3 separate regions of the Homo sapiens genome follow, and regions 1 and 2 are each linked to region 3. The links come from fine-mapping of genetic effects on gene expression. A gene starts in region 3. Each other region holds a variant in brackets. All regions are shown on one strand. Distances are from middle to middle. Region 1 has its middle 56 kb from the start of PARP1. Region 2 overlaps PARP1 (poly(ADP-ribose) polymerase 1). Region 3 holds the start of PARP1 (poly(ADP-ribose) polymerase 1).

Region 1 (2,761 bases), 56 kb after region 3:
GGCCTCCCAAAGTGCTGGGATTACAGGTGTGAGCCACTGTGCCCGGCCTACATTTCTGTTGTTTTAAACCATCAAGTTTGGGTTAATTTGTTGCAGCAGCCATAGGGAACTCTATATGATATGCAAATTAACGGACACAGTGCCTGGACCCAAAAAGTTTTTAGGAATCTGACCGATCTTGGTTTGAATTACCACTTCATCTATTGCTCTGTGCTTTGGGTAAATTACTTAATCTCAGTCTAAGCATTAGGTTTTTCACTGTAAAAGAGTAACAGCAACTGTTTCATAGGATTGTTGTGAGGGTTAAATGAGAAAATGTAAAGTGCCTAGGATAGAGCAGGATTTGCCAACCTTGGCACTATTGACATTTTGGGCTGGATGATTCTTTATTGTAGGGGGCTGTGCTGGGCATCGTAGGCTGCTTAATAGTCTCCTTAGCCTTTACATACTCAATGCCAGTAGGGTTCCTCACTATAGTGCTGATGGTAGGAAAATGTCTTCAGACATTGCCACCTGTTCCCTGGGGGCAACATCACTCTGATTGAGAAGGACTGGTACAGAGTTTGGCTCTTAGAAAGTGCTCAGCAGATAGTAACAATTATTCTTTACTGAATGAATGGGAGGCAGTAGAGTATGGTGCTTAGGAACTTGTGCTTGGGCCTCCGACTCCCTGGATTCTAATCCAATCTCTACCGCTTACCAACCCTGTGACCTCAGTTGTGTTATTTAACATCTCTGTGCCTCAATTACTGGTCTGCAAAAAGGAAATATAATAAGAGGTACTTCATAGGGTTATTGTAAGGATTAGATGAGATGATTCAGATAAAGCATTTATGATAGAATCTGCCATATTGGCTGGGTGCAGTGGCTCACACCTGTAATCCCAAAGCTTTGGGAGGCTGAGGCGGGTGGATCATTTGAGGTCAGGAGTTGAAAACCAGCCTGGCCAACATGGTAAAACCCCCTCTCTACTAAAAATACAAAAATTAGCTGGGTGTGGTGGTGCATGCTTGTAATCCCAGCTATCCAGGAGGCTGAGGCACAAGAATCACTAGAACCTGGGAGGCGGAGGTTGCAGTGAGCCTAGATCATGCCACTGCACTCCAGCCTGGGCGACAGAGTGAGACTCAGTCT[C/CA]AAAAAAAAAAAAATCTGGATTATGTTACTGAGAAGAAGGGGAGCATGGGTGCTGGGAAAGGCAATCAGCAGATCTTGTCATAGAGGGTTGAGTAAGTTTTCCAAGAGAGGGGCAGTTTCTACTGCTAAATATTGTGATTTTACAGAAGAATTTTGAAGTCCAAAGTTGTAAACCAGAGGAGGTACATCTAGGAGATAACTGGGGAGCAGATGGTAGAAGGAGAGTAAGTGAGGCTATCAAGCTGTCCATATACTCTCCAGCTAGCCATTAGAAATCGACATTTCCCCTGTCTAACTGAGAGGTGACAATGGCTAGCAGCCCTCGTTTGCTCTTGGCACCTCCTGGGCCTTGGCGTCCACTATGGCCATGCTTGAGGAGCCCTTCCAGCCCGCAGCTGCATTGTGGGAGCCCCTCTCTGGGCTGGCCGAGGCCGGAACCGGCTCCCTCTGCTTGCGGGGAGGTGTGGAGGGAGAGGCGCGGATGGGAACCAGGGCTGCGTGCGGCCCTCGTGGACCAGTGCGAGTTCCAGGTGGGCGTGGGCTTGGTGGGCCCTGCACTCTGAGCAGCCGGCTGGCACCACCGGCCTTGGGCAGTGAGAGGCTTATCACCTGGGACAGCAGCTGTGGATGGTGCCCCGGGTCCCCCAGCACTGCCCTGGCTCCCCCAGCGCCTCGCTGGAATTCTCACTGGGCCTCAGCCGCATCCCTGTGGGGCAGGGCTCGGGACCTGCAGTCCGTGGCCATGCCCCGGCCATGCTCCAGCCCCGCTGTCTAGGTAAAGGATTGTAAATGCACCAATCAGCACTCTGTGCCTAGCTCAAGGTTTGTAAATGCACCAATCAGTGCTCTGTGTCTAGCTAATCTAGTGGGTATTTGGAGAACTTTTGTGTCTAGCTAAAGGATTGTAAATGCACCAATCAGCACTCTGTGTCTAGCTCAAGGTTTGTAAACGCACCAATCAGCACCCTGTCAAAATGGACCAATCAGCCCTCTGTAAAATGGGCCAATCAGCTCTCTGTAAAATGGACCAATCAGCAGGATGTGGGTGGGGTCAGATAAGACAATAAACTCAGGCTGCCTGAGCCAGCAGTGGCAACTTGCCAGGATCTATTTGGGCACTGTAGAAGCTTTGTTTTTTTGCTGTTTGTACTGAATCTTGCTGCTGCTCACTCTTTGGGTTCTCACTGTCTCTATGAGCTGTAACACTCATATGAAGGTCTGCAGCTTCACTCCTGAGGCCAGCGAGACCATGAACCCACCAGAAGGAAGAAATTCCGAACATGTCCGAACATCAGAAGGAAGAAACTCCGGAGACACCATCTTTAAAAACTGTAACACTCACTGCAAGAGTCTGCGGCTTCATTCTTGAAGTCAGTGAGACCAAGAACCCACCAATTTCGGATACATAACCTCAGACCAATATCAAATTAATACCCTATCCAAGCATCCCTTCCTTAACACTAACCCTACCGCAATCTCATACCAACCCTAAACTCTTCTTCTTTTTTTTTTTTTTTGACGGGAGTTTTGCTCCTGTTGCCAAGGCTGGAGTGCAATGGTGTGATCTCAGCTCACCACAACTTCCACCTCCTGGGTTCAGGTGATGCTTCTGTCTCAGCCTCCTGAA
Region 2 (2,761 bases), 28 kb before region 3:
GCACTTTGAGAGGCTGAGGCGGGAGGATCACTTGAGTCCAGGAGTTTGAGACCAGTCTGGGCAACACAGCGAGGCCCGTCTCCATAAAAAATAAGGCATGGTGGTGCGCACCTATAGTCCCAGTTACTCAGGAGGCTGAGGTGGGAGGATTGCTTGAGCCTGGGAGGTCAAGGCTCCGCTGAGCTGTGATTACGCCACTGCACTCCAGCCTGGGTAACAGAGCGAGACTATTTCAAAAAACAAAACAAATAGTTGCAAAACAACAACAAAAAACAAAACACCAAACAAAAAGAAAAGCCAGCAGAAGAATATGTGAAACCATACCTTGGGACAACTGTACAAGGACAGCAACGCTACTGGTTAGTAAGTGGCTTCTTTCTCCCCTTTAAGCAAAGGCCTTATAATTTGTTTTTGATCTCTGTGATTAGATTTCATTCCCCAGGCACTGGGCCTAACGGGTTTCACAAGGCTGATGGCACAGCACTAACCAATGCAGGACGGGCCCATGTCTCTGCACAACCAGGCTACACCTGCAGAACTCACCTGTTTTCCTTGTCGTCCTCCAGAAGCTGCAGCTTGTAGTAGGAGTTGGTTCCTTTAACGATGTCCACCAGGCCAAGGGTGGCACTGAAGACCTTCCCACCTTTCTCCAGGACATGCGCAGAGTGTTCCAGTCCTGTCCCAGAGGAAAAGCACCTACAGTTTTCTCTCCCCTTGAGGTGCTAGCACTCTCACGGAGAAGGGATCTGCAGGCCTGAGGTTCACGCCTCTTGGATACACTACCACCACCCTCGGGAGGCTCCCCACAAATGTGTGTTCTCAGGACTGGGGGAGCTGGTGAAGGAGGCCTGAGTGAGGACAAAGGCACGACCACACTGCCCCAGGTATGCTGCGGGCATTTGGATGTGTGCTCCTAGTCAGCTGGGGGTTGGGGGGCGGCACAGCCCACTTTGCTGGCAGTCCTGTTTGCTTACCAGAATCAGGATCCACAGCTGCTCCTCCTTTAAGAGTTAATTTCATTCTCTTTTCAGATTTGTTGATACCTTGGAGGAGAACAGAAAAATGTAAACATGAAGTTAAATGTAACTAAAAAGTAAGGGGAAGGTAGAAGGCAAATGAGTTGTTCTCATTCCCATCATCTGTCAACTCGGCATCTATATACACACTACTCCCGCCACCCCAAAGCGCCTGCCATTCTGTGTCCTGCTCTGCAGCACTCAACAGGCCATGTCAGGGACACAAAGGGAGAGGTTCCGTGGACAA[C/G]AACCTGGCCACCAATGTCCCTGGCTTTTGGCCCTGGAGGGGGCAGCTTGGGGCCCTCACCTTCCTCCTTGACCTGGCCCTTGCTTTTTTTGGAGAGCGCAGCCCCTGACTTCCCTCTTGGGGCCACAACTTCAACAGGCTCTGCCTTCACCTCTGCCCCCCAAGGGGACAAGATGTGCGCTAAGAACAACTCCTGAAGGCTCTTGGTGGAGGCGGAGACGTCCTGGAGGAAGTCCTCAGACACAACTCGGATGTTGGCTTCCTTTACTTCCTCCATCTTCTTATTCATCTTTTCCACCTCCTCTGTTCAAATTGAAAGGAAAAAAAACCAAAATACAAGTTTAAAACAAAACTGAAACTTCAAATTACTACAGTTATATTTAGTGTGTACTTCCAAACCCTCAGCATTCACAGCTCTCCTTTGCTTCCAAGTCTAATGCTCCCAAGAGTGTTTTTATCAGCAACATTCCCCCTTTTCTAAGGTATGATGAGCCAGGGCAGCCTTCTCCAAACCATTCTACAGCACGATGTTAACAAACACTCCAAAGAAAAAACACCCTGATGTCAAATATGTATGGGAAATCCTGTATTCTATTTCTCTGGTTCCTGAAGACCTACAGTGGTAATCAGCATAATAAACCCACACAGAAACCTGTTTAGCTTTGTTTTACCCTACCTTTTCCAAACATACTTGAACCTTGAACTTCTGTTTTGGCAGATATCTATGCACATCTTACAGAGCAGTGCGAAGTGATGAGAATACAGGTTGAGCAGCTTCCCTTATCCGAGATGCTTGAGACCAGAAACCTTTCAGACCTTAAAATACTTGCTTCATATTTACTGACTGAGCATCTAATCCAAAACTCTGAAATCTGAAATGCTCCAATGAACATTTCCTTTGAGCATCATGTTGTCACTCAAAAAGTGTTGAATTTTGAGGCAATTTGTTTGGGCTTCGGGACTAGGGAGACTCAACCTATAGTAGCTTACCGTCTTTAGTTGAGAACACGCAATGCATGTGAATCTACAGTACAAAGCAGCAACACTGAGAGCAAATACTGGTTTCCCTTCATAAAGAACCACAGCGATGATGATGTTAAGATCCAGTTTTTCAGCGCTGTGTTCGACTCTTCCTCACTTACTCGTCATCACAATCATAAGATACAGAAGCATTGTCCCTGTTGCACAAATTCAGATTCAACTCACTTTTGGTGCTGATGCACAGGGAAGCCTTGTTGGCCGTCCCCGTCAACTTCCCCCCGAGTTTCTCAATCATGGCCTTCACTTCATCCTTGTTCCGGGACAGCTTCCCGAGAGTCAGGATCTTCATGTTGGATAATGGCTTATCTGGGATGAAAGGAGAGAATCATTCAGCAAGGCCAGCTCTGGTGCTGCTCCCCAGTAAGGGGAGGTGGAGGAGCAGGTGAGCCAAGCAGCGAGCTCCTGGGAAAAGCCTATGAAAATACACTCGCGAGAAAACAGGACGGGACAGCAAGCT
Region 3 (2,761 bases):
TACTGAAAATCCACTGAGGGATATCTGGTCATTCCTAAAACACATTACAGCTCATGGAAGGGAGGAAAATCAAGCTACCTTGACCATGAGCACTAAGCTTGGGTAATATGTTGGAAGCGAGGAGGAACAGGGCAGATGAGAACCAGAATTATTAATACAAAGGTAGACATCGGCAAACTGGAAGCTGGAGGCAGGAGCCCCTGGGAAATGACAGGGGCCTTCAAGCCCACCACCTCACAGAAGGCTCAGGAAACCTCAGAAGGGGATTCAATCTATCAAAAAGCCCACATGAGAAACCCCCCTGGAGCCACTCTTACTCAAACCAGACAGCTGCAAATGCACCAAGAGAACGCGTCTGTGAATCTGGAAAATTTGGGGAAAATGTTACTTTAAAGCACAAATTAGGCTCAAAGTGAATGTACTGTACAGAAATGACACCTTTCTGCATAGTTCTGCCTAATTAAAATAAAAAATGAGAGTGAGCGTTTAAATGACGTGTTGAAATGACTGCCAAAAATAGGTTTAACAAAAAAAAAAAAAACCCACATGTCAGTCGCCACCATCCATGTAGAACAAAAACCCTCCAGAACAAGATAGGTCAAAATCAGATTAGCTTAAAGAGACCATGTACAATTCCCCCCCAACCCCTGAGGCGAACGGCAGTAATAAAACACCGCCACCCAGAAAGGAGAAGAGAAGAGGCTCCTCGTTTTCACAAAGCGAAAGGCAACACCAGCTGCAGACTTTATTTCCCGGGCTTTTCCTGCAACATCAGCAAAACCTTCCGGAAGGGTCGGCCGGGCCGCTCGGGAGGAGGGGCGGCCGCGGCCCCATAGGCCCCAAGTGCCGCTCCGAGGGCCCGGGCCCGCTCGCTCCCTGGGCCCGCCCTCCCCCAGCCTTCCCGGACACAGTTAACCCGGGGCGCCGCGTCCCCGCCCCGCCGCCCGCACAGCGGCCCGCACCTGCACCATGATGGCCATCCGGAGCGAGTCCTTGGGGATGCTCTCGCTGCATTTCTTGCAAGAGGCGCGCCCGCTCTTGGCGTACTCGACTCGATAGAGCTTATCCGAAGACTCCGCCATCCTCCCCTAGCTGCCGCCAAAGCTCCGGAAGCCCGACGCCACGACCTAGAAACACGCTGCCGCCTCGCCGCCTCGCGTGCGCTCACCCAGCCGCAGGCGCCTGAGCGGCCAGAGCCGCCACCGAACACGCCGCACCGGCCACCGCCGTTCCCTGATAGATTGCTGATGCCTGGCCGCGGGAACGCCCACGGAACCCGCGTCCACGGGGCGGGGCCGGCGGCGCGCGCGCCCCCTGCCGGCCGGGGGGCGGAGTTTCCCGGGCGCCTGCCGGGTGGAGCTCTGCGGGCCGCTGCCCTGGGGGCCGAGGCGGGGCTTGGGCTGAGCTAGTAGCTCTTTGGAGGACCCGGCGCCACCCCTTTGATTGTTCTGTCCCAGGAAGTCTTACTTGATTTCACAACTAATTTTACCCCCAACCCCTCCCCCTTTTATTTTTGAGACTGAGTCTCACCGCGCTGGAGTGCAGTGCCGCCATCATGGCTCACTGCAGTCTGGAACTCCTGAGCCCAGCGATCCTCCCACCTCAGCCTCCCGAGTAGCTGGGACTACAGGCGCTCACCACAACTGGCTAATTAAAAAAAAATTTTTTTTAGGGACAGGGTCTCGCCAAGTTGGCTAGACTGGTCTCAAACTCCTGCTACAAGTGATCTTCACGCCTCAGCCTCCCGAAGTGCTGGGATCAGGGGCATGAGCTACCACGCCGGCCCCAAACTCTTAAGTGTGTCCTCTCTCCCCTGAGGGCAGCTGGGTCCGGGAAGCGCAGGCCCCCGCCTCGGGAATATAGTTGATTGGCCCGAGGTGGACCCTGCAGTGCTAGGTCCACCCTCCTGGCTTGGACGGGCGTTCTAACCTGCCGTCCACAGACCGTCGGGACAAAATACCAACTGAAACCTAGCATTTCCTTTATTATGAATTTGACTACAAATACCAGGAGTATTAGCAGTACCTGTGACTTTGTGGGCAATAGTCATCACAGACGTTTTCATGTTACTTTACAGTTGTTGGTGATAACTCGAAATATTATTAAGCTCATCACTACTCGAAATTGTGGTAATGACTGCACCTGTTGCTATCAGATATTTTGTGTGTGTGTGTGTGTGTGTGTGTAAAGAAAGAGATGGGGAATCTCTCCATGTTGCCCAGGCTGGTCTTGAACCCCTGGCCTCAAGCAATCCTCCCACCTCGACTTCCCAAATTGCTGGGATTACAGGCATGAGCCACTGCACCTGGCCTAGATCTTGTTGTTTAATATAGAACTATACTTCAAAATATAGTTTATTAAAATTGGTTTCTTTTCTAATCCTATGCATTTTTTTTTTTCATTTCAAAGATTGTAACATGAGTGTGCTTTATTTGAAAATATTCAATTCTGGTATAGAGGATAAGAAAAATAAGCAGATGAATAAAACTCATAAAAAGTGTTAACCATAGAGAAGAAGCTAGTGGCTTAAGAGACAAGGATGTTGAGTAAGCAAGAAGGTTGTGAGACATAGGCCGAATCCTAAAAGTTAGTAACCAGTTAGATACGTTGAAGGTAGGCTGGGCACAGTGGCTCATGCCTATAATCCTAGCACTTTGGGAGGCTGAGGTGGCCGGATCCCTTGAGCCCAGGAGTTCAAGACCAGCCTGGACAACATGGCAAAACCTTGTCTCTACAAAAATTAGCTGGGGGTGGTGGCAGG

The links. PIP is the estimated chance that this variant, and not a neighbour inherited with it, causes the effect.
Region 1: its variant is fine-mapped to the expression of PARP1 in whole blood (INTERVAL, PIP above 0.99).
Region 2: its variant is fine-mapped to the expression of PARP1 in whole blood (TOPMed, PIP 0.99).

Annotation. Positions count from the first base shown.
Region 1 is chr1:226,462,594-226,465,354 of GRCh38, forward strand. No RefSeq gene overlaps it. Among named protein-coding and RNA genes, the nearest start is that of PARP1, 56 kb to the left of the region's middle. The variant C/CA (reference allele first, on the strand shown) is at 1,135.
Region 2 is chr1:226,378,599-226,381,359 of GRCh38, forward strand. It overlaps PARP1 (poly(ADP-ribose) polymerase 1), which reads right to left. Exons shown (of 23, transcript NM_001618.4): 9 at 2,470-2,610; 10 at 1,324-1,566; 11 at 975-1,043; 12 at 544-676. Among named protein-coding and RNA genes, the nearest start is that of PARP1, 28 kb to the right of the region's middle. RefSeq lists an enhancer at 511-1,710. The variant C/G (reference allele first, on the strand shown) is at 1,264.
Region 3 is chr1:226,406,848-226,409,608 of GRCh38, forward strand. It overlaps PARP1 (poly(ADP-ribose) polymerase 1), which reads right to left and starts at 1,246. Exons shown (of 23, transcript NM_001618.4): 1 at 963-1,246. The coding sequence starts at 1,082. RefSeq lists silencers at 821-920, 1,171-1,430, enhancers at 1,461-1,590, 1,769-1,913 and a cis regulatory region at 1,841.